Linked DNA regions of Homo sapiens: region 2 is linked to region 1. The links come from fine-mapping of genetic effects on gene expression. A gene starts in region 1. The other region holds a variant in brackets. All regions are shown on one strand. Distances are from middle to middle. Region 1 holds the start of GRK7 (G protein-coupled receptor kinase 7). Region 2 has its middle 10 kb from the start of RNF7.

What was found. PIP is the estimated chance that this variant, and not a neighbour inherited with it, causes the effect.
Region 2: its variant is fine-mapped to the expression of GRK7 in whole blood (TOPMed, PIP above 0.99).

The regions. Positions count from the first base shown.
Region 1 is chr3:141,756,626-141,768,930 of GRCh38, forward strand. It overlaps GRK7 (G protein-coupled receptor kinase 7), which reads left to right and starts at 6,783. Exons shown (of 6, transcript NM_139209.3): 1 at 6,783-9,113. RefSeq lists a silencer at 6,028-6,202.
Region 2 is chr3:141,721,758-141,734,062 of GRCh38, forward strand. No RefSeq gene overlaps it. Among named protein-coding and RNA genes, the nearest start is that of RNF7, 10 kb to the right of the region's middle. The variant T/A (reference allele first, on the strand shown) is at 5,820.

The DNA of each region.
Region 1 (12,305 bases):
CATGTAGGATGTATACATTTTACTCTATGTAAAACCTGAATTTTTTTTAAAAAAGAAAGAGATGGCTATTATTATTGAAGACCATAACCAACACCCTTTTACATTTGCTACTAAATGGAAAATAAAAGAAAATGCATTAATGGTGTTCCATTTGTCTTATTGTTCAACTCTTCAAGAAATCATTCAAATCAAAATAATTGTTTTTCTCATCTTGTTCTGGTCCCCTGTGGAGGTAACCTGAGAAAGCTCCTTGGAGTTCATTAGAAGGGCCACACTTTCAAGAAGTTTCTCAAAACTCAGAAGAAAAAAGTAATGGAAGAAGTGATTTTTTTAAGGGAAAATGTTTTATTAATTCCATCTCTCTTCTAGAATATTTTTCAGGGTTTTAAATGTGCAAAATCTTGGAGCTACCCCCAATTATAAGACGAAAATTTTAGTGTAGCCTGAAATTCCTCACTGAACTCTGAACTCCCACTTTTCTGACAATACGCTTAGATCTTCTTCTTTTTTTTTTTTTTTTTCTTTTTTTTTTTTTTATTATACTTTAAGTTTTAGGGTACATGTGCACATTGCGCAGGTTAGTTACATATGTATACATGTGCCATGCTGGTGCGCTGCACCCACTAACTCGTCATGTAGCCTTAGGTATATCTATCTCCCAATGCTATCCCTCCCCGCTCCCCCCACCCCACCACAGTCCCCAGAGTGTGATATTCCCCTTCATGTGTCCATGTGATCTCATTGTTCAATTCCCACCTATGAGTGAGAATATGCGGTGTTTGGTTTTTTGTTCTTGCGATAGTTTACTGAGAATGATGATTTCCAATTTCATCCATGTCCCTACAAAGGACATGAACTCATCATTTTTTATGGCTGCATAGTATTCCATGGTGTATATGTGCCACATTTTCTTAATCCAGTCTATCATTGTTGGACATTTGGGTTGGTTCCAAGTCTTTGCTATTGTGAATAATGCCGCAATAAACATACGTGTGCATGTGTCTTTATAGCAGCATGATTTATAGTCATTTGGGTGTATACCCAGTAATGGGATGGCTGGGTCAAATGGTATTTCTAGTTCTAGATCCCTGAGGAATCGCCACACTGACTTCCACAATGGTTGAACTAGTTTACAGTCCCACCAACAGTGTAAAAGTGTTCCTATTTCTCCACATCCTCTCCAGCACCTGTTGTTTCCTGACTTTTTAATGATTGCCATTCTAACTGGTGTGAGATGATATCTCATAGTGGTTTTGATTTGCATTTCTCTGATGGCCAGTGATGATGAGCATTTTTTCATGTGTTTTTTGGCTGCATAAATGTCTTCTTTTGAGAAGTGTCTGTTCATATCCTTCGCCCACTTTTTGATGGGGTTGTTTGTTTTTTTCTTGTAAATTTGTTTGAGTTCATTGTAGATTCTGGATATTAGCCCTTTGTCAGATGAGTAGGTTGCGAAAATTTTCTCCCATGTTGTAGGTTGCCTGTTCACTCTGATAGTAGTTTCTTTTGCTGTGCAGAAGCTCTTTAGTTTAATTAGATCCCATTTGTCAATTTTGGCTTTTGTTGCCATTGCTTTTGGTGTTTTGGACATGAAGTCCTTGCCCATGCCTATGTCCTGAATGGTAATGCCTAGGTTTTCTTCTAGGGTTTTTATGGTTTTAGGTCTAACGTTTAAATCTTTAATCCATCTTGAATTGATTTTTGTATAAGGTGTAAGGAAGGGATCCAGTTTCAGCTTTCTACATATGGCTAGCCAGTTTTCCCAGCACCATTTATTAAATAGGGAATCCTTTCCCCATTGCTTGTTTTTCTCAGGTTTGTCAAAGTTCAGATAGTTGTAGGTATGCGGCGTTATTTCTGAGGGCTCTGTTCTGTTCCATTGATCTATATCTCTGTTTTGGTACCAGTACCATGCTGTTTTGGTTACTGTAGCCTTGTAGTATAGTTTGAAGTCAGGTAGTGTGATGCCTCCAGCTTTGTTCTTTTGGCTTAGGATTGACTTGGCGATGCGGGCTCTTTTTTGGTTCCATATGAACTTTAAAGTAGTTTTTTCCAATTCTGTGAAGAAAGTCATTGGTAGCTTGATGGGGATGGCATTGAATCTGTAAATTACCTTGGGCAGTATGGCCATTTTCACGATATTGATTCTTCCAACCCATGAGCATGGAATGTTCTTCCATTTGTTTGTATCCTCTTTTATTTCCTTGAGCAGTGGTTTGTAATTCTCCTTGAAGAGGTCCTTCACATCCCTTGTAAGTTGGATTCCTAAGTATTTTATTCTCTTTGAAGCAATTGTGAATGGGAGTTCACTCATGATTTGGCTCTCTGTTTGTCTGTTGTTGGTGTATAAGAATGCTTGTGATTTTTGTACATTGATTTTGTATCCTGAGACTTTGCTGAAGTTGCTTATCAGCTTAAGGAGATTTTGGGCTGAGACAATGGGGTTTTCTAGATAAACAATCATGTCGTCTGCAAACAGGGACAATTTGACTTCCTCTTTTCCTAACTGAATACCCTTTATTTCCTTCTCCTGCCTGATTGCCCTGGCCAGAACTTCCAACACTATGTTGAATAGGAGCGGTGAGAGAGGGCATCCCTGTCTTGTGCCAGTTTTCAAAGGGAATGCTTCCAGTTTTTGCCCATTCAGTATGATATTGGCTGTGGGTCTGTCATAGACAGCTCTTATTATTTTGAAATACGTCCCATCAATACCTAATTTATTGAGAGTTTTTAGCATGAAGGGTTGTTGAATTTTGTCAAAGGCTTTTTCTGCATCTATTGAGATAATCATGTGGTTTTTGTCTTTGGCTCTGTTTATATGCTGGATTACATTTATTGATTTGCGTATATTGAACCATCCTTGCATCCCAGGGATGAAGCCCACTTGATCATGGTGGATAAGCTTTTTGATGTGCTGCTGGATTTGGTTTGCCAGTATTTTATTGAGGATTTTTGCATCAATGTTCATCAAGGATATTGGTCTAAAATTCTCTTTTTTGGTTGTGTCTCTGCCCGGCTTTGGTATCAGAATGATGCTGGCCTCATAAAATGAGTTAGGGAGGGTTCCCTCTTTTTCTATTGATTGGAATAGTTTCAGAAGGAATGGTACCAGTTCCTCCTTGTACCTCTGGTAGAATTCGGCTGTGAATCCATCTGGTCCTGGACTCTTTTTGGTTGGTAAACTATTGATTATTGCCCCAATTTCAGCTCCTGTTATTGGTCTATTCAGAGATTCAACTTCTTCCTGGTTTAGTCTTGGGAGAGTGTATGTGTCGAGGAATGTATCCATTTCTTCTAGATTTTCTAGTTTATTTGCGTAGAGGTGTTTGTAGTATTCTCTGATGGTAGTTTGTATTTCTGTGGGATCAGTGGTGATATCCCCTTTATCATTTTTTATTGTGTCTATTTGATTCTTCTCTCTTTTTTTCTTTATTAGTCTTGCTAGCGGTCTATCAATTTTGTTGATCCTTTCAAAAAACCAGCTCCTGGATTCATTGATTTTTTGAAGGGTTATTTCTTGCCTTCTGCTAGCTTTTGAATGTGTTTGCTCTTGCTTTTCTAGTTCTTTTAATTGTGATGTTAGGGTGTCAATTTTGGATCTTTCCTGCTTTCTCTTGTGGGCATTTAGTGCTATAAATTTCCCTCTACACACTGCTTTGAATGCGTCCCAGAGATTCTGGTATGTTGTGTCTTTGTTCTCGTTGGTTTCAAAGAACATCTTTATTTCTGCCTTCATTTCGTTATGTACCCAGTAGTCATTCAGGAGCCGGTTGTTCAGTTTCCATGTAGTTGAGCGGCTTTGAGTGAGATTCTTAATCCTGAGTTCTAGTTTGATTGCACTGTGGTCTGAGAGATAGTTTGTTATAATTTCTGTTCTTTTACATTTGCTGAGGAGAGCTTTACTTCCAACTATGTGGTCAATTTTGGAATAGGTGTGGTGTGGTGCTGAAAAAAATGTATATTCTGTTGATTTGGGGTGGAGAGTTCTGTAGATGTCTATCAGGTCTGCTTGGTACAGAGCTGAGTTCAATTCCTGGGTATCCTTGTTGACTTTCTGTCTCGTTGATCTGTCTAATGTTGACAGTGGGGTGTTAAAGTCTCCCATTATTAATGTGTGGCAGTCTAAGTCTCTTTGTAGGTCACTCAGGACTTGCTTTATGAATCTGGGTGCTCCTGTATTGGGTGCATATATATTTAGGATAGTTAGCTCCTCTTGTTGAATTGATCCCTTTACCATTATGTAATGGCCTTCTTTGTCTCTTTTGATCTTTGTTGGTTTAAAGTCTGTTTTATCAGAGACTAGGATTGCAACCCCTGCCTTTTTTTGTTTTCCATTTGCTTGGTAGATCTTCCTCCATCCTTTTATTTTGAGCCTATGTGTGTCTCTGCATGTGAGATGGGTTTCCTGAATACAGCACACTGATGGGTCTTGACTCTTTATCCAACTTGCCAGTCTGTGTCTTTTAATTGGAGCATTTAGTCCATTTACATTTAAAGTTAATATTGTTATGTGTGAATTTGATCCTGTCATTATGATGTTAGCTGGTGATTTTGCTCGTTAGTTGATGCAGTTTCTTCCTAGTCTCGATGGTCTTTACATTTTGGCATGATTTTGCAGCGGCTGGTACCGGTTGTTCCTTTCCATGTTTAGCGCTTCCTTCAGGAGCTCTTTTAGGGCAGGCCTGGTGGTGACAAAATCTCTCAGCATTTGCTTGTCTGTAAAGTATTTTATTTCTCCTTCACTTATGAAGCTTAGTTTGGCTGGATATGAAATTCTGGGTTGAAAATTCTTTTCTTTAAGAATGTTGAATATTGGCCCCCACTCTCTTCTGGCTTGTAGGGTTTCTGCCGAGAGATCCACTGTTAGTCTGATGGGCTTCCCTTTGAGGGTAACCCGACCTTTCTCTCTGGCTGCCCTTAACATTTTTTCCTTCATTTCAACTTTGGTGAATCTGACAATTATGTGTCTTGGAGTTGCTCTTCTCGAGGAGTATCTTTGTGGTGTTCTCTGTATTTCCTGAATCTGAACGTTGGCCTGCCTTGCTAGACTGGGGAAGTTCTCCTGGATAATATCCTGTAGAGTGTTTTCCAACTTGGTTCCATTCTCCGCATCACTTTCAGGTACACCAATCAGACGTAGATTTGGTCTTTTCACATAGTCCCATATTTCTTGGAGGCTTTGCTCATTTCTTTTTATTCTTTTTTCTCTAACCTTCCCTTCTCGCTTCATTTCATTCATTTCATCTTCCATTGCTGATACCCTTTCTTCCAGTTGATCGCATTGGCTCCTGAGGCTTCTGCATTCTTCACGTAGTTCTCGAGCCTTGGTTTTCAGCTCCATCAGCTCCTTTAAGCACTTCTCTGTATTGGTTATTCTAGTTATACATTCTTCTAAATTTTTTTCAAAGTTTTCAACTTCTTTGCCTTTGGTTTGAATGTCCTCCCGTAGCTCAGAGTAATTTGATTGTCTGAAGCCTTCTTCTCTCAACTCGTCAAAGTCATTCTCCATCCAGCTTTGTTCCATTGCTGGTGAGGAACTGCGTTCCTTTGGAGGAGGAGAGGCGCTCTGCGTTTTAGAGTTTCCAGTTTTTCTGTTCTGTTTTATCCCCATCTTTGTGGTTTTATCTACTTTTGGTCTTGATGATGGTGATGTACAGATGGGTTTTCGGTGTGGATGTCCTTTCTGTTTGTTAGTTTTCCTTCTAACAGACAGGACCCTCAGCTGCAGGTCTGTTGGAATACCCTGCCGTGTGAGGTGTCAGTGTGCCCCTGCTGGGGGGTGCCTCCCAGTTAGGCTGCTCGGGGGTCAGGGGTCAGGGACCCACTTGAGGAGGCAGTCTGCCCGTTCTCAGATCTCCAGCTGCCTGCTGGGAGAACCACTGCTCTCTTCAAAGCTGTCAGACAGGGACATTTAAGTCTGCAGAGGTTACTGCTGTCTTTTTGTTTGTCTGTGCCCTGCCCCCAGAGCTGGAGCCTACGGAGGCAGGCAGGCCTCCTTGAGCTGTGGTGGGCTCCACCCAGTTGGAGCTTCCCGGCTGCTTTGTTTACCTAAGCAAGCCTGGGCAATGGCGGGCGCCCCTCCCCCAGCCTCGCTGCCGCCTTGCAGTTTGATCTCAGACTGCTGTGCTAGCAATCAGCGAGATTCCGTGGGGAGATTCCGTGGGGTAGGACCCTCCGAGCCAGGTGAGGGATATAATCTCGTGGTGTGCCGTTCTTTAAGCCGGTCTGAAAAGCGCAATATTCGGGTGGGAGTGACCCGATTTTCCAGGTGCGTCCGTCACTCCTTTCTTTGACTTGGAAAGGGAACTCCCTGACCCCTTGCGCTTCCCAGGTGAGGCAATGCCTCGCCCTGCTTCGGCTCGCGCCCGGTGCGCGCACCCACTGGCCTGCGCCCACTGTCTGGCACTCCCTAGTGAGATGAACCCAGTACCTCAGATGGAAATGCAGAAATCACCCGTCTTCTGTGTCGCTCACGCTGGGAGCTGTAGACCGGAGCTGTTCCTATTCGGCCATCTTGGCTCCTCCTCCAGATCTTCTTAAGGATGAAAAATATGGGCTTGGATTCTTCCCATACCTCATGCTTCAAATAGCCGTTGATGACCCTGAAGCCATAGTGCTGTGTTTCGGTCAAACAACAGCCCAGAACTGAAGTTTTGTGAGGGCATAAGGCACCTAATAAAGCATAGGAGCTCTGGAGTCCTCCCAACTTCACCATTCCTTGCTGTTAGGTCCTTAAGGTGAATGCAAAGTGAAAGGAGCAACTTTCAAAGTTCTTGCTGTAGCTTCCACCCTTAGCTCTCAAACCCACTAACTAACCCAGCAAAGTCTGGGGGGCCTCAGATCAGCCCAACCCTCTGCCAGCTCCACCTTCACAGACGAGGAACCAGGGCCCCAGTGCTGTGCCTAAGACCTCCTTCAACTTAGCAGTAGCCCAGTGGAAGCTGCAGGATCCCGGATCCAGATCCAGTGTGCGTGGCAAGGCCAGCACCCCTCCCTGCCCCCAACACTGTCCACCACCATCTGCTTTGAGTCCAGCAATCTCATCCTGCCCTTTATCCTAGTTAGATACCTCAACACAAGAAACCCAGTTTTCCAGCTCAACTCACATTCTCCTAACTCTAATTCCAAGTAGTTCTTTACATTCCCTTTTATTCCTGCAACTCCCACCCCTTCCTGACTTCTGAAACTTGTCCTCTGTGCCCTCCAATATTTACACCAACAAAATTTCCTCCGTCCTCTTCCCTTCCCTACAAATTCCCTCCATTTTGTTTTCCCTAAAACCTGGTTCTCCCCCAAGGACACTGTTTCTTCTGCAACACTTCTGCTCCCCTCATCCAACTGGACCTGGCAACATGCAAGACGTCTTCATTTCTCTTCATTGCTGCTCTCCTTCCTTCCCTAAAAACACCCAGCTTTGAGTCTCATGTGACTGGACTCCAGCAGTCACTGTGTCTTCTTGCAGCCCCACAAATCACTCGCTGAGTTGCTAGCTCCCAGCTCTCCATCACTACTCTTGATAATTCTTGGTGATTTCAATACCCACATGGCTGATGCTTCTCATACCCTGGCCTCTCCATCCCCTGATCTCATCTCTTCCAGTGATGTGCTCTCCACCCCTGCCTTGACTGCCACTCACTCCAGTGGTCACACCCTTAAGCAAGACTCCTCAAGAGTAGCTTACACTAGCTGCCTCCAATTCATTGATTCTCTGTTGAACTGACTCTCATAAGGTTTTCATCCCACTACTTCATAGAAACTGCTCTTGTCAAGCATCTGCGTGACCTCCAAGTTGTTAAATTCACTGACCAATTCTCAGTCCTTATCCCACTGACCTCTCAGCAGCATTTGCCGTAGTAATCACTGTTTTCTCCTTGACACTCTTTCTTCCCTTGATATCCAGGATCCACATTCTGTCTCTCCTAATACCCCACTGCCCTCACCTCCTCAAACTCTAGGGCTCAGTCCTTAGATTTCTCTGCCCTCACCCCAGAGTGATCACACCCAGTCCTGTGGCTCTAAAGGCCATTTATATCTGGGGTGACTCCCAGTGAGTATCTCCAGCCCAGCCCTCTCCTGTGGGTTCCAGACCCATAGATCTTGTAGACTACTCAAGACCTCAGTTTGGCTGTCTCCCTGGCAGGTCAAATTTAACAGGTACAAGACTGAGCTCTTGATCTTCCCCACACCCTGCTCCTCCAGAGGATTTCCCACCCTGTTTACCAGAAATTCATCCTTCCAGTTACTCAGGCCCAAAACCTTGGAATCACCCTTGCTCCTTTTCTGTCACACCCACAATCCATCCATAAGCAAACTATCTTCCCCCTCCCCTGATTTCTCACCAGGGTTACTGCAGCAGCCTCCAGACTGGTTTTTCTGTTTTAACCCTTGCCCCTTCTGTCTGTGATCCTGTTAAAATGTCCATCTGATTGTTGAAAACTTCCAGTGGCTTTCCATCTCACTCAGAAGGAAAACCTAAGTTCTTGCAGTGATCAGTACTGCCTCACTGGTCTGCTCTGTTTCCTCTCTGAGGACATTTCCTGCTGCGGGCCCCTCACTCTGGGCCACCCACACTGACTTTCTTGCTGTTTCTCAAGCTCACCAGGATTTGAGCCAGCTGTTCCTTCTCCCTGAAGTGCTCTACCCTCAGGCAGTCACATGGCTCACGCCCTTACCTTCAGGAGGTCTTGACTCTCATCATTTTCTCAATTCAGTCTTGCCTGACCACCCTATTTAAAAGTGAAGCCTTCTCCCTGGTGTATCTCAGCACTTCCCTTCTCCTTCCCTGCTTGATTTTTCTTCACAGCACTTACCACCATCTGTGGTGGGTTGGAAAACATGGCCACAGTATTTTACAGCTACTCCTATCAACCTGGGCTAGGCTTGTGACCAGTAGAATGTGGCAGAAGTTAACGGTGTATCAGCTCCAGAGCCTGGAACTGAAGAGATCTTGCAGCTTCTGCCTTCACCCTTTTGGAAAACTGCTCTGAGGCCATCATGCTTTGAGGAAGCCCAGGAGGAAACACTGCAGAGAGGCTCAACCACCCCAGCTCTCCCAGCTGAGCTCAGCCACCCACCGATCCCCCAGCTGAATGCAACCATAAGAGTGAGTCCAGGTGAGACCAGCAAAGAGCTGCCCAATCAAAGCAAATCTGTATATTTGTGGGATAAGTGCATAGAATGAATAGACAAATGAAACATAGGCCAGAGCTTTGTGTGGATTTTAGTTAATATGACTTAGTACTCAGTACTACTTACGAATTCTCTTTTATACATCAAAGTCTTCACTTGCAATGTGCTATCAGGTAAGAGGTGTTTAAGTGTCACCAGCTGAATCTGGTGTTCCATTTTCTTTACCATAGCGTATATCAAGGGTCAGGCCCACACTGTATATGGAAATAAGGCTTTCATCTCAGTTGCAAATGACTCTAATGTTACTATTGTTTATAAAAGTTGGGGTGTTTAAATATTTTAAAGTATTCTTTAACATAACTCCCTCTACCCCACCAGTGGACATTTAACATTTACACGCTTAACTTAATTTTTTCTTTTTTTTTTTGAGATGGAGTCTCACTCTGTCGTCCAGGCTGGAGTGCAGTGGCGCGATCTCAGCTCACAGCAAGCTCTGCCTCACGGGTTCACGCCATTCTCCTGCCTCAGCCTCCCGAGTAGCTGGGACTACAGGCACCCGCCACCACGCCCAGCTAGTTTTTTGTATTTTTAGTAGAGATAGGGTTTCACCGTGTTAGCCAGGATGGTCTCGATCTCCTGACCTCGTGATCCACCCGCCTCGGCCTCCCAAAGTGTTGGGATTACAGGCGTGAGCCAACGCACCTAGCCAGTTTTTTCTTATAACTTCCTTATTCTCTCCACTCTCGATTACTTTTATTCGCCACCAAATGTGAAAAAAAAAAGTCTTTAAAGCAGACTCACCGAAATTTCTAATAAATACTTACTACTTCTTCATTCCAGAATACAAAGTCTTTTATGTCCTACTAAAAATAACTTTGACTTTTATGCCCTTGTTTCATTCATTATTATAACCGTAACACTTTTTTTCAAATAATTCCCACATATTCGCCACATATCAAATCTATGTTTTGTGGAATTTCTTTTGCTTTTTGTTTGCTAACATTGTATTGTTTGGTCTTCTCTAATAATCTATGTCTTCTAATAAAATCTCGTACTTTCCAGAGAGTTGCTTAGCAGATTTTTAAAATCTTATTGTGTGAACACATACAGTTCATTTGCATATCTGCCATAATTCATTTCCAAATGGAATCTCTATCAGGAAGTATTTTCTATTTCCTTCAGATATACCAATTACTTCATTTTCTCTCTTAGCTACTGTGACTCCTTGTTTAAGAAGAATATCCTCTGTTATGAGAATGCAGTCATTATTAAAACAATTAGAGTCTTGTTTAGAGAGGAAGATGTTTATGTTATGCCAGATTATAGCCTAAGATTCAATATTTATGGACTTAATTTATTATAGAAATGAGGAGTTTTAAGCAAGCATACAGATTCTTTCACCCCTATGAAAGCATGTGCAACTTCTCCTATCTTAAGTAGCCTCAAAAGCAAAAATTTTCACCATCTATTCTTGGTATGACATGTAAGGAAGGTCAGGCTTCCTGTTGATAAAAAGATTTCTCTTTCAGATACACAATGATTGTTTCATTATCAATTGGAACAGAGCTGAACTGAATGCTTGGTTTTATACTATGATACCATGCAAGCCTTATAACTAAAAATCTGTTGGTTTTGTGTTTTGTTTTTTGTTTTTTTTTTTTGAGACAGGGTCTCCTTCGCACTGTCACCCAGGCTGGAGTGCAGTAGCGTGATCTCAGCTCACTCCAGCCTCCAGCCCCCAGCTCAACCAATCCTCCTACCTCAGCCTCCTGATTAGCTGGGACTATAGGCATGTGCCACCATGCCCAGATTTTTTTTGTATTTTTAGTAGAGACGGGGTTTTGCTGTGTTGCCCAGACTAGTCTCAAACTCCTGACCTCAGGCGATCCATCCACCTTGGCCTCCCAAAGTACTGGGATTACAGGCGTGAGCCACCATGCCCAGCAGAAAAGTCTGCTATTTTAAAGGGAAACAGAGGACAAGAATCATTTGTAAATATCTCAGCTTTCTCCTTTGTGTGTCACACTAGATTCTTTTACCCCCAAGCTTCTCTATGCCACAGGGACAATGCTAAGTGAAAAGTACCCTGGAATGGACTATGAGACCCTAAGTTCCTAGTCTAAACCCAGCATTTAAGTTTTTTCTGGTCTGTTTTCTTCATGTACAGGAAGAGCTTAGACTAGGTACACACTATGATAACATGCATTCTATTTAACTCTGTGATTATTGGATAATTGGAGTTAATAGGAAAGTGAGTGGTTTTCAACTGACATTTCCTGAAAGTTAGAAAATGAATTGTTCATTCCTCTATGTTCCCCTTGGATTTGGTGCCTACCTGTGGAGCGGCCTCTAACCACACTGTGTCACGGTTATCATGGTAAATGGGGCCACCACACATAGACCCCTTGCAACAGACCCACACTCCTGTGCTGTCTGGAGAGCTGCCCTTCGTCCTAAGGCCAATCCTTCCCCTTATATTTTAACCTCGCCCTCTAACCTGGATCCTTCCTGTCAGCCTTTTTTTTTTTTTTTTGAGACGGAGTCTCGCTCTCTTCCCCAGGAGTGCAGTGGTGCAATCTTGGCTCACTGCAGACTCCGCCTCAGCCTCCGCCTCCCGGGTTCCAGTGATTCTCCAGCCTCAGCCTCCCAGGTAGCTGGGATTACAGGCACCCACCACCACACCTGGCTAATTTTTTTGTATTTTTAGTAGAGATGGGGTTTCACCATGTTGGCCGGGCTGGTCTCGAACTCCTGACCTCAGGTGATCCACCCGCCTTGGCCTCCCAAAATGCTAGGATTACAGGCATGAGCCACCGCCCCTGGTCCTTGTTAGCTTTTAACAAGCACAAGACACTACCATTAATTTTTTCTCCCATCTCTCGCAACCCCTCCAGCTCCCCATCATATGTCTCTCCCTTTTCATGGCCAAAGTTCTGTGGCTGCAACCTTCACTTCTCCACCTTCCTTCCCTCCTCAATCCTCTCCAGTCAGGCTGAGAGTCCTACTCCAGGAGCCAGTGGTTTCCATCCATCCTCCTTTCTTTCTCCTCATCATCTCAGCCTCTCAGCAGCATTCGATGCAGTTGGCCACTCTCTACTTGGCTTTTGCGGCACCACACTTTCCTGCTTCTCTCCAGCTTCCCTTCTCATTCCTTCTCAGCCTCCCTTACAGGCTCA
Region 2 (12,305 bases), 35 kb before region 1:
AGATTTGAAAATGCAAATTCAACCTTAAGGAAAGTAGAAAGAACTCTTGGTATGTTACTGGGCAGGTCAAGCGGAGAGAATTAAGCAGTCCAAGCATCTGTCTCTACCATTTCCTCAGAATGGTCTTAGAGGCATAGCATAATCATAGATTGCATTTTTCTTTTAATGCTCTAGAGTTTTAGATAGAAGAATTATAATGATATTACTGTATATTGTATTGACATTTTTAAAACTAAAACTCCTACATTTTTAACAGCCAATCAAGTGATTCCATGATGTTTAAGTTATCCCTTTATTTTAGAGAAACAGAATATCTACTTTCTATTCCATTAGAGTTGAATTCAATTTCAGCAGAATTACTCTGTTAAATTTAGTTCAAATATAGCTTTAAGCTTGATAAACTGAAGGCAGGTTAATGCTTTCATTTGTTTTTCCTGGCACCGTAGTAACTTTTTCATTGTACATTGAGGGAGAAGATGTTACAAGTCTGCAGGCAGTCTCATGACCATGACTATAGTGAATGCTAATGACAATCAGTCTCAGATGACTTGATGGAAAGTGATTATCTCTGAGTATGTATTTGGAGCTGGAAAACATCATGCTTTGCTTAGTAAATGTTTTAATTTGCATAAATGAGAAGATAATTATGAAATATCCACCTGAAAATACAAATACGCATTTAGAAGGCATTAAAAAGTAATTTATAGTTCAAGAAATCTTTTTTTCAAATATAGTAATATGTATCATGAGTAGCCTTAATGCATCCCTCTCTTGAGCTGAAATAATTATGGTGTTTCTGATGGAATACTTCAATTGGATTGTTAGTTTGAACACCAAGAAGATTCCTCAAAACAGGGTTAACTGGTTGGGTTTTATAGGAAAAATCTCTTCCCATTCAGCCCTAATGGCATCATTTTAAACATTAAAAGCAATTAATAGTATTACTGATTATAGAGCTAATGTTCTTCAATTGATTGTTTCTTAACATTTGCAAGTTAACAAGCTAATTTCTAATTCTAATTCTAATTCGTTCATGAAATCCAAATTAACAGCCTGAGGTCACTTACTTGGCTATCAAGGAGATCTTAATGACCTGCCTTTAATGATGGACGAGGCCCAGTGAAATCTTCCTCAGAAACATTAGCAAGCTCATTTCATTAAAAAAAAAATAGCTAGTGAAACAATAAGCTGTTATCCTGTCTTACTGCTTTTTCACTAATAAGAAAACAGAGTACTGAAGGAACATTTCATTTATTCATTCTTATTTCTTTCAATATATATTTGTTAAATGCCTATCATGTACCAGGCCCTGTTCTGGGCCTGGTAGGAGGAGAGTCATGAATTCCTGCCTTCATGAGGCATATATATGATTGTATATCTGATGGGGATCATACTTAGAGGAAAAATAAAGCAAATGAGGGGGTAAAGTGTGTGTCAGGGCATGGGGGTTGCCATCTTAGGGTAGCTAGGGAAGGCTTTGCTGAGAAGGGACACTTAAGTAAAGACCTAAAGTAGTGATGGAGCAGGCCATGTGAATATCTGAGAGATGAGCATTCTGGCTAGAAGGAACAGCAAGTGCCAAGGCCTTAAGGTAGGAGCCTCCTGGTGTGTTCAGTAAAGCAGCCAGCATGGCTGAATGGAGTGAGCTAGAATGGGAGAGTCAGAGGACAAACAATTTGAGATGCAAGTATGCAGAGCAGAAAGCCTTCTAGACCCTTGTGAGGACTTTTGGGTGTAACTGTTGACAAGGAAAGGCTTTTGAGAATGATAAACCTAGAAGTAACCTGATGTAACCCACATTTTAACAGGATTGCTTCAGCTCTATGTTAAAAATAGACTATAGGGGAGGCAAGGGCAGAACAAGGATTCTAGTTAGGGAGTTTTCTCTGGGAAAACTACACAGAGCCTTTCAGCAGACCCAGAACACCCAGCAAGGTGGAAAATGTGGGTTGGGGAGAAGCTACAAAGATGAGAATTAAGGAAAGTTGTACATATTGAGCAGTTGAAACTCAGTCCTTACTACCACCCTAGGCTTGTCTGCCCTGCTTCCAGAAGGCTGACAGCCATGTAGAAGATTGGGGTATTACTTGAGAAATTGAATAGCCCTAGAAAAAGAAATTCTAGATGCTGACAGCTGGCCATCTCCTCACCATTCAAAGAAGCCTAGCAGGTCAGCAAGCCCTGAACATACATGACAGCTGCCCATCAGCCTTTGTATGTCTTATGCTTCATTGTGAACAAGATACCTGAGAACCTCCAGACACTTGAGGCAAGTCTCCAACACGAGAGACCAACTCTGAAACAGAGGGAATGAAGGAACCCTGAAGATATAGAAACAATGCAGAAAACTAAAGAAAAACCAAAAAAAAGCTGTAACATTATAGCATTCTGAATGGAAGAAAGGATAAGGCATCCATAAAAAGGGAATGGGGTACTATGAAAAAAGAACAATTAGAAAATAAGAAAAAGTTTTTGGACAGTAAAAAAGATAGACAAAATAAAATATTCTGGGGGGAAAAAAAGGTAGACAGATAAAATCAAGAGAGTCAGCCCTCTGCTCCTCCAGTTTGAGAGACAGCTGCATTTTCTCATGCAGCACCAGCTGCGCCCCTCAGACACCAGGGTGAAGGTGAAGGCCAGAATAAACAGATGTATCCACAGTGGGCCTTGGTCACCAGGGCTGCTTTTAACTCTGGCAAAGTGGATGTTGTCACCATCAATGACCCCTTCATTGACCACAACTACATGGCCTACATGTTCTAGTATGAGCATGTTCCAGTATGAACAAGGCCAAGTTCCACATAACCTCCAAGGAGTAAGACCCCTGAACCACCAGTCAGAGCAAAGAGGATGAGAGAGGCCCTCAGCTGCTGGGGAGTCCCTGCTGCACTCAGTCCCCCACCACACTGAGAATCCCCCCTGAAGAGGGAAGGTCTGGGGAACTCTGCTTTGTTGTGTACCATCAACAAAGTCACCTGTACTCAGCCCCCACCCCACCCCCCAAAAAAGAAAGAAAGCTTCAGAAGTGAAACAAAAGATAAGGAGATGAAAAATTGGTGAGAAAGTATAAGAGACAGAGGATCAACCTACGAACATCAGTGTCTAACTAAGAGTTTTCAGAAAGAGAAAGCAGAGAAAAGTGAAGACAGGGAATTATCAAAGGAATAAATAAAGAACTTTCCCAGAGCCAAGGAACATAAATCTGCACGTTGAAAGAGCCCATTGGGTGTCCAGCACAGGGAAATACAAAAAGTATATCATGATGGCATTCAGAGCACTAGGAATAAAAAGGGGATCCTAACAGCTAACTAAAAGAAAACAATTTGCATCCAAAGGACTGGGAATTAGAATGACATCAGACTTCGTAACTAGAAGCTAGGGGCAACAAAGTGCTACTGTGACAATTCTATGAGAAGTCTATACCTTCCCAACTTCTAACCATGTATGAGGCCAAAATAAAGATGTTTTCAACATGCAAACATTCCAAACATTTGCCTCCTCTGAGTCTATTCTTAAGAAACTTCCAAAGAACATGCTTGAGCAAAATGAGAAAATAAACCAGGAAGACAAGCCAGGCGCAGTGGCTCATGCCTGTAATCCCTGCACTTTGGGAGGCTGAGGCAGGCAGATCACTTGAGGTCAGGAGTTCGAGACCAGCCTGGCCAACTTGGCGAAACCCCCCTCTCTATTAAAAATACAAAATTAGCCAGGCATGGTGGTAAACACCTGTAAGCCCAGCTACTCAGGAGGCTGAGGCAGGAGAATCACTTGAACCGAGGAGGCGGAGGTTGCAATGGGCCGAGATCGCACCACTGCACTCCAGCCTGGGCAATAGAATGAGACTGTCTCAAAAAAATAAATAAATAAAAATAAAATAAAATAAACCACAAAAACAAAGAACGCCAAGTTCAGAAATCGGAAGGCCCAATATAGGACAGTAAAAAAGGGAGTCCCAGATGATGGTTGAGGTAAATCCAAATTGGAGCAGAAAAGTAGAAGACTTTGTAAAGGAGAAAGACTTGGTTAAAAACTGAACTTATAGAGCATGTGAAATACTTAAGTATTTTGTCAACTGAGGTCAGGAGTTCAAGACCAGCCTGGCCAACATGATGAAACCCGCATCTCTACTAAAAATACAAAAATAAAAAATAGATACTTAGGTGTTTTGAAAGAAATATTGATAAGTATATTTGAAATGACAGAAACCTGTGGGAAAATATTTAGAATAAGTACACAGAAAACTCTGCAAATGACAAAACAGGCAATTATTAACTTAGACAAAAGACAGATATACAATGAAATATGTACAAAAATATACCAATGAATACACCAAGTGTTGATTTAACTAAAAATTGTGATATATCTTTATTGGGAGGCTTGGTGAGAGGAAGTTACAAAAGTCAATATGTAAAATTTTAAATGGAAATATCAAGAAATAATATAATAAGCACTTTGTTTAAAATCAGGCAGTAAATATCATGAAAAACTGCTGAATAAGTTGAAAGTGGCTGCCTCTGCAGAAGAGAACTTGGGGCCACGTGCAGTGGCCTACACCTGTAATCCCAGCACTTTGGGAGGCCAAGGTGGGAGGATCACTTGAGCCCAGGAGTTCGATACCAGCCTGGGCAACCTAGGGAGACCCCATCTCTACAAGAAGAAGAACAAGAGGAAGAGGAAGAAGAAGAAGAAGAAGAAGAAGAGAGGGAGGGGGAGGGGAGGGGAGGGGGAGGGGGAAAGAAGGAAGGAAGGAAAGAGAAGAGAGAATGAGAGAGAGAAAGAAAGAAAGGAAGGAGGGAGGGAAGGAAGGAAGGAGGGAAGGAAGGAAAGAAGAAGAAAGAAAGAAAAAAAAGAAAGAAAAGAAAAGAAGAAAAGAAAAGAAAAGAAAGAAAATAAATTGGTCTGTTGCCCAGGCTGGAGTCCAGTGGCATGATCTTAGCTCACTGTATCCTTGAACTTCTGGGCTCAAGTGATCGTCCTACCTCAGCCTCCCAAGTAGTTAGGACTACAGGCATGTGCCACCATGCCTGGCTAATTTTAAATTTTTTGTAGAGGTTAGGTCTTGCCATTTTTCCCAGGCTGGTCTTGAACTCCTGAAACCCAAAGTGCTAGGATTGCAGGCATAAGCCACTAGCCACTGCACCCAGCCAAAAATATTTTTAAAGAGAGAATTGAAAAGTGCCTAGCTTTCTCACCATGTAATTTGTTGTTATATAACTCCAGGTCAATACCTAATGCTGGCTTAAATCATCTTAGTTTCCTCAAAAGAAGAGGAAGTCTCAAACACTTGGGATATGCTTCATTGAAGAATGAGTAGAATTTTATAAGTGGAAAATAAGTAGAAAGGATGACCGAAAGTGTGGCATCCAGGAAACATAACAGTCTTTTGTGAGCTTAGGCGACACATGAATCCTCTGAGGTCTCAGCTGGTCTCCATTCCACACTCCTGGCCCCATTTCAAATGGTCTGTAGCATATGAAACACCTCACAGCCTGCGCCGTGCATCCCACACTCCCTCCTTGCCTCAGTGGTCAAGACTTTGACCTTTGTTTTCCTACTGAAGACTTTGCCTTCCCCTGCTTTGGACCTGTCCTCTATATTTCTAACTCCGAGCTTTGTTTTTCTCCTTGGCCAGGATTTATACCTGTTTCCGATTAAATACTGCATCATATAGAGATAGTGTTTGGCTACAGGTAACAGAACCAGCTACAGTGCCCTACACAGGTGGAAGACGACTGGGCAGGTACAGCTACTGCACCACATCATCAACGTCCCAGATTCCTTCTCTCCTTCTCCACCATCACCTCAGCAAGTGGCCCTTA[T/A]CCTCATGGCTGCAAGGTGGCTCCCACACCTGTGACCTCTCCTCTCCATTCCAGACCAGAAGAAGGAGAAGAAAGGACAAGGAGGAAGTGCTAGTATCTGATTTCTGGCTCATTCTTTTTTTTTTTTTTTTTTTTTTTTGAGACAGTTTCGTTCTTGTTGCCCAAGCTGGAGTGCAATGGTGTGATCTTGGCTCACTGCAACCTCCGCCTCCTGGGTTCAAGCAATTCTCCTGCCTCCCAAATAGCTGGGATCACAGGCATGCACCACCATGCCTGGCTAATTTTGTATTTTTAGTAGAGACGGGGTTTCTCCACATTGGTGAGGCTGGTCTCAAACTCCCAACCACAGGTGATCCGCCCACCTCGGCCTCCCAAAGTGCTGGGATTACTGCGCCCGGCCTCAAGTTGTGACATTCTAAACCACATTGTCTTACACCTCCAGGTTCCTTTCCATATTCATCCACCTTGCCTTCCACTGCTCTTTCCTGTGCCCAGCCTGATTTGACCTCATACTTGTACAAGCATTTTCATACTTCAACCTCAATTTACCCTCTGGAGCTGAAATTCAGTACTATTTTCTAAAGTTCTTGTTTTTCCTCTCAACTGTATTTCTTGTTTTCCCTTCTGCTTTTGGCCTCTCCCTGGAGAAGCCTGGCCTCCAGAAACTGTAGTGTTAGGCACCTCCGGCCTTATAAGCAGGACCTAGCTGTATGGCTAAATGAGAAGCAGGAAGGAGGAGAAGGGAGAGTTCCATGGGAAAGAATATGGAGGAGGGGTTGACACAGGCTCTGTAATAACACATTAGGGATTTGAGTCTTTATTTTATAGGAAAATCAGTGAGAACTCTGGGTTTCAAGTGATACAAAACCGATTCAAACTGACTTAAGTACAAAAGCAAATCTGTTGACTCCTGTAAGTCCAGGGTGGTTCTAGCTTAAAGTCCAGCTGAAATCAAGGGTTCACATAACGCCGCCCACCTCCATCTCCTGGGAGTTCTGCTGCTGTGTTGACTTTACTCTCAGGCAGGCTCTTTCCCACATGGGGGCAAGTTGAGCAGCATTAGCCAGAGGGTTACATTCTGCCTGGTTAATAATCTCAAGAAGGAGCTCTTCTTTGGACTTTCACTGGAGGACCATGAGTCACATGCACACCTGTTAACCAATCACTGTGCCAGGGAGATGAAATACACTAGACATCCCTGGGCTACGTGCATACCCTGGAGGGCAGGGGAGTGGAACCCTAAAACAAACTCAAAGTGCTGTTGCAGAAAGAAGCTGAAATGGAAGCTGGGTAGGCGGAAACAAGAGATGTCTACTAAAGAAAGAGGGCCAGTAATGGTATTAGAGCTGGTAATGAGAAGATCAGAATGTTGCTTTCAGATGATTAATCTGGAAGCAGGGTCCAGGATGGGCTTGGGGTTGGGGAAGTTTGGGATTAGGAAAACTGGTTAGGAGGCTACTCTATCATCCAGGTAAAAGACATGACAGTGAGAATGGGAAAGACAGGACAAGTGTAAGAAGTTACTTCAGAGGTAAATTAATTGTCAGCATCACTCGCACCAAGAAGGTATAAGGAAGAGGTATGAGGTCAGAGGAAAGTCACTCGGCTAATAAGAATGTGGGAGAATGCCTCTCTCAGAAGCCTAAGACCCACTCCCTCTAATGTAGTTGTGAGATATCCTACCTATTTATGATTATGTTCTTTCCCCGTGCAGGTAAACTACCGGTCTTAAAAATTACAGTCACTCCCCAGATCTCTTCAGATACCTTCAGATCAATTTGGAAAAATAGCAAGAAGTCTAACACTATGCATAAAAAGAAGAAAAAGGTAAGTTCTTGGACGTCTGTGTCAGTGAGGAGCAGCCACCAGGGAGTGCTGTGTGGAGCCTGGGCCCTTGGGGCAGACAGCACCATCAGCTGCAGGTTTTGCATTTGATTATATGAGAATTTAGGTTCTAGGTCACGCTCCCCTAAACCATCATTCCAATCTGATGGATGATGATTGAACCAAGAGACAAGTAAGTAAGAGAACAACAGTTTCCTCAAAGATTGGCACAGACTGGGCCTCCCCTCTTTAATTCCCACCCCTACCCAAATCCTAGTTGCTGCTAGCCTATTGTGGATCTGAAAAGATAAATTTACTTTTAAATTTACCTAAACTCTTTATGAAGGCTGTGCTACCTCTTAGGAGGTAATGCTTTATATATGTTTATTCTCTACTGTAAGAAGTTGAACTCCCTTTTTTCTATAATTTATGATTGCCTGTTTATTATTTCACAGACTAAAAACTGAATATAGGTGCTATATTTCCATATGGATGTCATCTATTTCCATGGCCAAGCAGATACACCCGGATAGATATTGCTTATTCTATAGTAATATTTTTCACTGTAACCAAGTCCCTTTGAAGTTCTCAAATTTGATGATTATTGTATGAAAGTTTAAAGTCATGTGATAATCCTGTCTTGTGATGATCCCATCACACTTGTCATTTTCTAAAATGTGGGTTTCACAAGTAGGCCTTAGTAAAAAAAGACGCAATTCTCTGAGGCTTCATCTCTCCTGCATATGAAATTTATAAGTTGAAGGAAATCATACTTTTATCTAAAAAAGAAAGAATCCTCTTTCATAAATATACCTATAGTTGGGAACAATAAGAATGCTTGGAAATAATAACCACTTCCTAAAAGACACCATCCCTAAAAATGAGGATCCTCCCTAAATGAGGAAACTTTTTTTTTTTTAAGACAGGGTCTTGCTCTGTTGCCCAGGCTGGAGTGCAGTGGCGCAGTCTTGGCTCACTGCAACCTCTGCCTCCTAGGTTCAAGTGATTCTCCTGCCTCAGCCTTCTGAGTAGCTGGGATTATAGGCGCGCACCACCATGCCCAGCTGATTTTTTGTATTATTAGTAGAGACAGGGTTTCACCATGTTGGCCAGGCTGGTGTCGAACTCCTGACCTCAGGTGATCCACCTGCCTTGGCCTCCCAAAGTGCTGGGATTACAGGCGTGAGCCACAGCTCCCAGCCAAATGAGGAAACTTTTAATTCCTCTGCCCCACCCTGAAGATGCCACATAGCCCCGTGAGAAATGGAAGAGGTGTGGTTGATTGATATACAGATGACAGTGGGTGAGTTGAGTTTTATATGCCACAACAATTATGGTGCAGGATGAAGAGCATGGCCTAGGCAGTTAGATGAACCAGAAGTCTCTATGGAGGAACTGCCGCTTTCCAGGTACTGAGCCTGGGCAAGTCAGTTCACCTCATGCTCCTCAGTTTCCTCTTATGTAAGACATAGTTAAGAGTAGCAGGGCTGGGTGCAATGGCTCATGCCTGTAATCCCAGCAATTTGGGAGGCTGAGACAAAAGGATCGCTTGAAGCCAGGACTTCAAGACCAGCCTGAGCAACATAGTGAGACCCCCTATCTCTACAAAAAATTTAAAAATTAGCCAGCTGTGGTGGCATGTGCCCGTAGGCCTCGCTATTTGAGAGGCTGAGGCAGGAGGATTGCTTAAGCCCAGGAGGATAACACTTCAGTGAGCTATAATTGCACCACTGCACTCCAGTCTGGGTGAGGAAGTGAGACCCTATCTCAAAAAAAAAAAAAAAAAGAGTAGCGCCTATCTCAATTGGTGAGCATTGAATGAGACCACACATGTCAAGCATTTTAGAACAATGAGAACAATGCCTTGTTCATATTATACACTCAAAAATAAATATGAGTGGCTCTTATTATTGCTGCTGTTATTGTGGATGTTAGAATTGAGTGGTGCCAGTTATTTCATCTATGACAACCACACAAGAAACATAGGAAAGAAATGAAAAAAAGAAGACTGAAGACCTCTTCACTTTGAAGTAAAAATAAAAAACGAAAACTTCATTCATTCTATCTACAAATTTAACAAGTGCTAGCAAGTTTCTGGAATCAAACTAACTGTAGGGTAAGAATGGTATAGTAAATTAGCTCCACTCTCCAGGGTCTTAGGATCTAGCTAAGAAGACAAGATCTTCGGCCAGGCACGGTGGCTCACGCCTGTAATCCCAGCATTTTGGGAGGCCGAGGCGGGTGGATCACCTGAGGTCAAGAGTTCAACACCATCCTGGCCAACATGGTGAATCCCTGTCCCTACTAATAATACAAAAATTAGCCAGGCGTGGTGGCACATGCCTGTAATACCAGCTACTCGGGAGGCTTAGGCAGGAGAATCACTTGAACCCGGGAGGCGGAAGTTGCAGTGAGCTGAGATCACGCCATTGCACTCCAGCCTGGGTGACTATAGCAAAACTCCGTCTCCAAAAAAAAAAAAAAAAAAGACAAGATTTTCTTGCATTAAAAGTGAACAACAATAAAGTATATGACTTGGAAAAATATGTGTCATTAAGCAGGATAAGAAAGGCCATAGAGTAACAAGATCAATGTAACAAATTTACCAGAACTGATGTATCCAATATGTGAGAGCTCCTGAGAACTGTTCCTGCTTAAAAGAAATGAAAATAGACTGGGTGGGCACCGTGGCTCACGCCTGTAATCCCAGCACTTTGGGAGGCCGAGGTGGGCCGATCACGAGGTCAGGAGATCGAGACCATCTTGGCCAACATGGTGAAACCCCATCTCTACTAAAAATACAAAAACTAGCTGGTCGTGGTGGCCCATGCCTGTAATCTCAGCTACTCAGGAGGCTGAGGCAGGAGAACAGCTTGAACCAGGGAGTTGGAAGTTGCAGTGAGCTGAGATCATGCCACTGCACTCCAGCCTGGCAAAAGAGTGAGACTCCGTCAAAAAAAAAAAAAAAAATGAAAATAAAAGTCAAAAAGACCTTTTTTGAAATTTGCCACACGTATCCACTGGGTAGGAGTGTAAAATCAGAATACCCCTTTAGCGGGTCTTTTGGCAGTGTTTATTAAAATGAAAAATACATAGCTTTTGACTCGGCCATTCTACTTTTAGAAATTTGTTTACTGTCACATGTGTGCAAGGAAATATGTATGAGGATGTTCACTGCAGCACTCTTTATTTTACGTGGGAAATAACTAAATTTTTCTCAAAGAGTTTCAGGGGAATAAATCACAGTAAATGTGTGTGGTAGAATACTATGCAGTCATTGAAAGAATAATGTGGATACATAAGTGCTTATATGGAAAAGTATCCAAGTAACACCATTTTTAAAAACAGGTGAGAGAATAGTATATGTGAAAAATTCATACAAAAATGAATTGACATAGTATAATCCAGCAATTTCACTTGTGTGTATACATCTAAAAGAATTGAATGTAGCGTCATTAAGAGATATTTGAACACCATGTTCAAAGCAGCATCATTTACAATAAATCAAAGGTGGAAGTAACCCAAATGTCCATGGAGAGATGACTGGATAAATTAAATGTGATATATACATAAAATGGAATATTACTCGGCCTTAAAAACGAAGGAAATTCTGACACATGCTACGACATGGATAAACCTTTAAGGATATTATGCTAAGTGAATAAGTCAGTCACAAAAAGACAAATACTGCATGCCTCCACTTAGATACTTACAGTAGTCAAAATCAGAGACAGAAAGTAGAATGGTGGTTGGGAGTACGTGTGAGGAGGGAGTTATTGTTTAATAGGTACAGAGTTTCAGTTTTGCAAGATGAAAAAGTTCTGGAGATTGTTTGCACAACACTGTGAACATACTAAACACTCCTGAACTGTACACTTAAAATGGTTAAGATGGTAAGTGTTACGCAAATTTTACCACAATTTAAAAAAATTTTAAATTGATGCATTGTGTGTCTGCTTGTGCATATACAGGAATTTCTGGAGAGTCTATTAATGGTACTTGGGTTTTTATTGTATTCCTGTTTCACTGTTTTTATCATTTGTGAGCTGTCAATTTTTAAAAACTTAAAATTGTTCAATAAATTATGATGAGCTTGTTAAACATCTGTAACAGCGCCCTTTGCTTGCTGTGTGACCTGGTGCCAAAAGTGTAGAAGAAGCACAGTAAATGCTGTGATTTCCTGGGAGGACATGAATATGTGGTGGCAAAGAGTGGCCAGTGAGAACAGAAAGATGAGTACATTTTTTCTAAGCACAGAGGGCAATCCAGCTGAAGAAGGTAGGGGAAGTTCTATCCAATTTCAGAGATGTTAACATGTGAGGAAAAGACCATCCATGGTACACTTGGATGACTGTGCAGACCAGTCTCACGAGGATCCTGCAGAGGGGTGCCGGGGATGGCCTTGACAGGTAGGTTGGGGCCATATTGTGGTGGGACTTAAATGAACAATCAGGACATTTAGATTTTGTTCTGATGATAATGTGGAGCTTTGGAACATTTTGAGCAGGAGAGTGTCAGGAGGTAGGAAAATTAACCAGGCATGTTAGATTGAATGGCAGTTAGACTGGGGAGGAAAGGCAGGGAAGAAGTCAATACACTGTAATCCAGAAGCAGGGTGATGAGGTTAAGCTCCACAATAGGAAATGGAAAGTTTGGTTGATT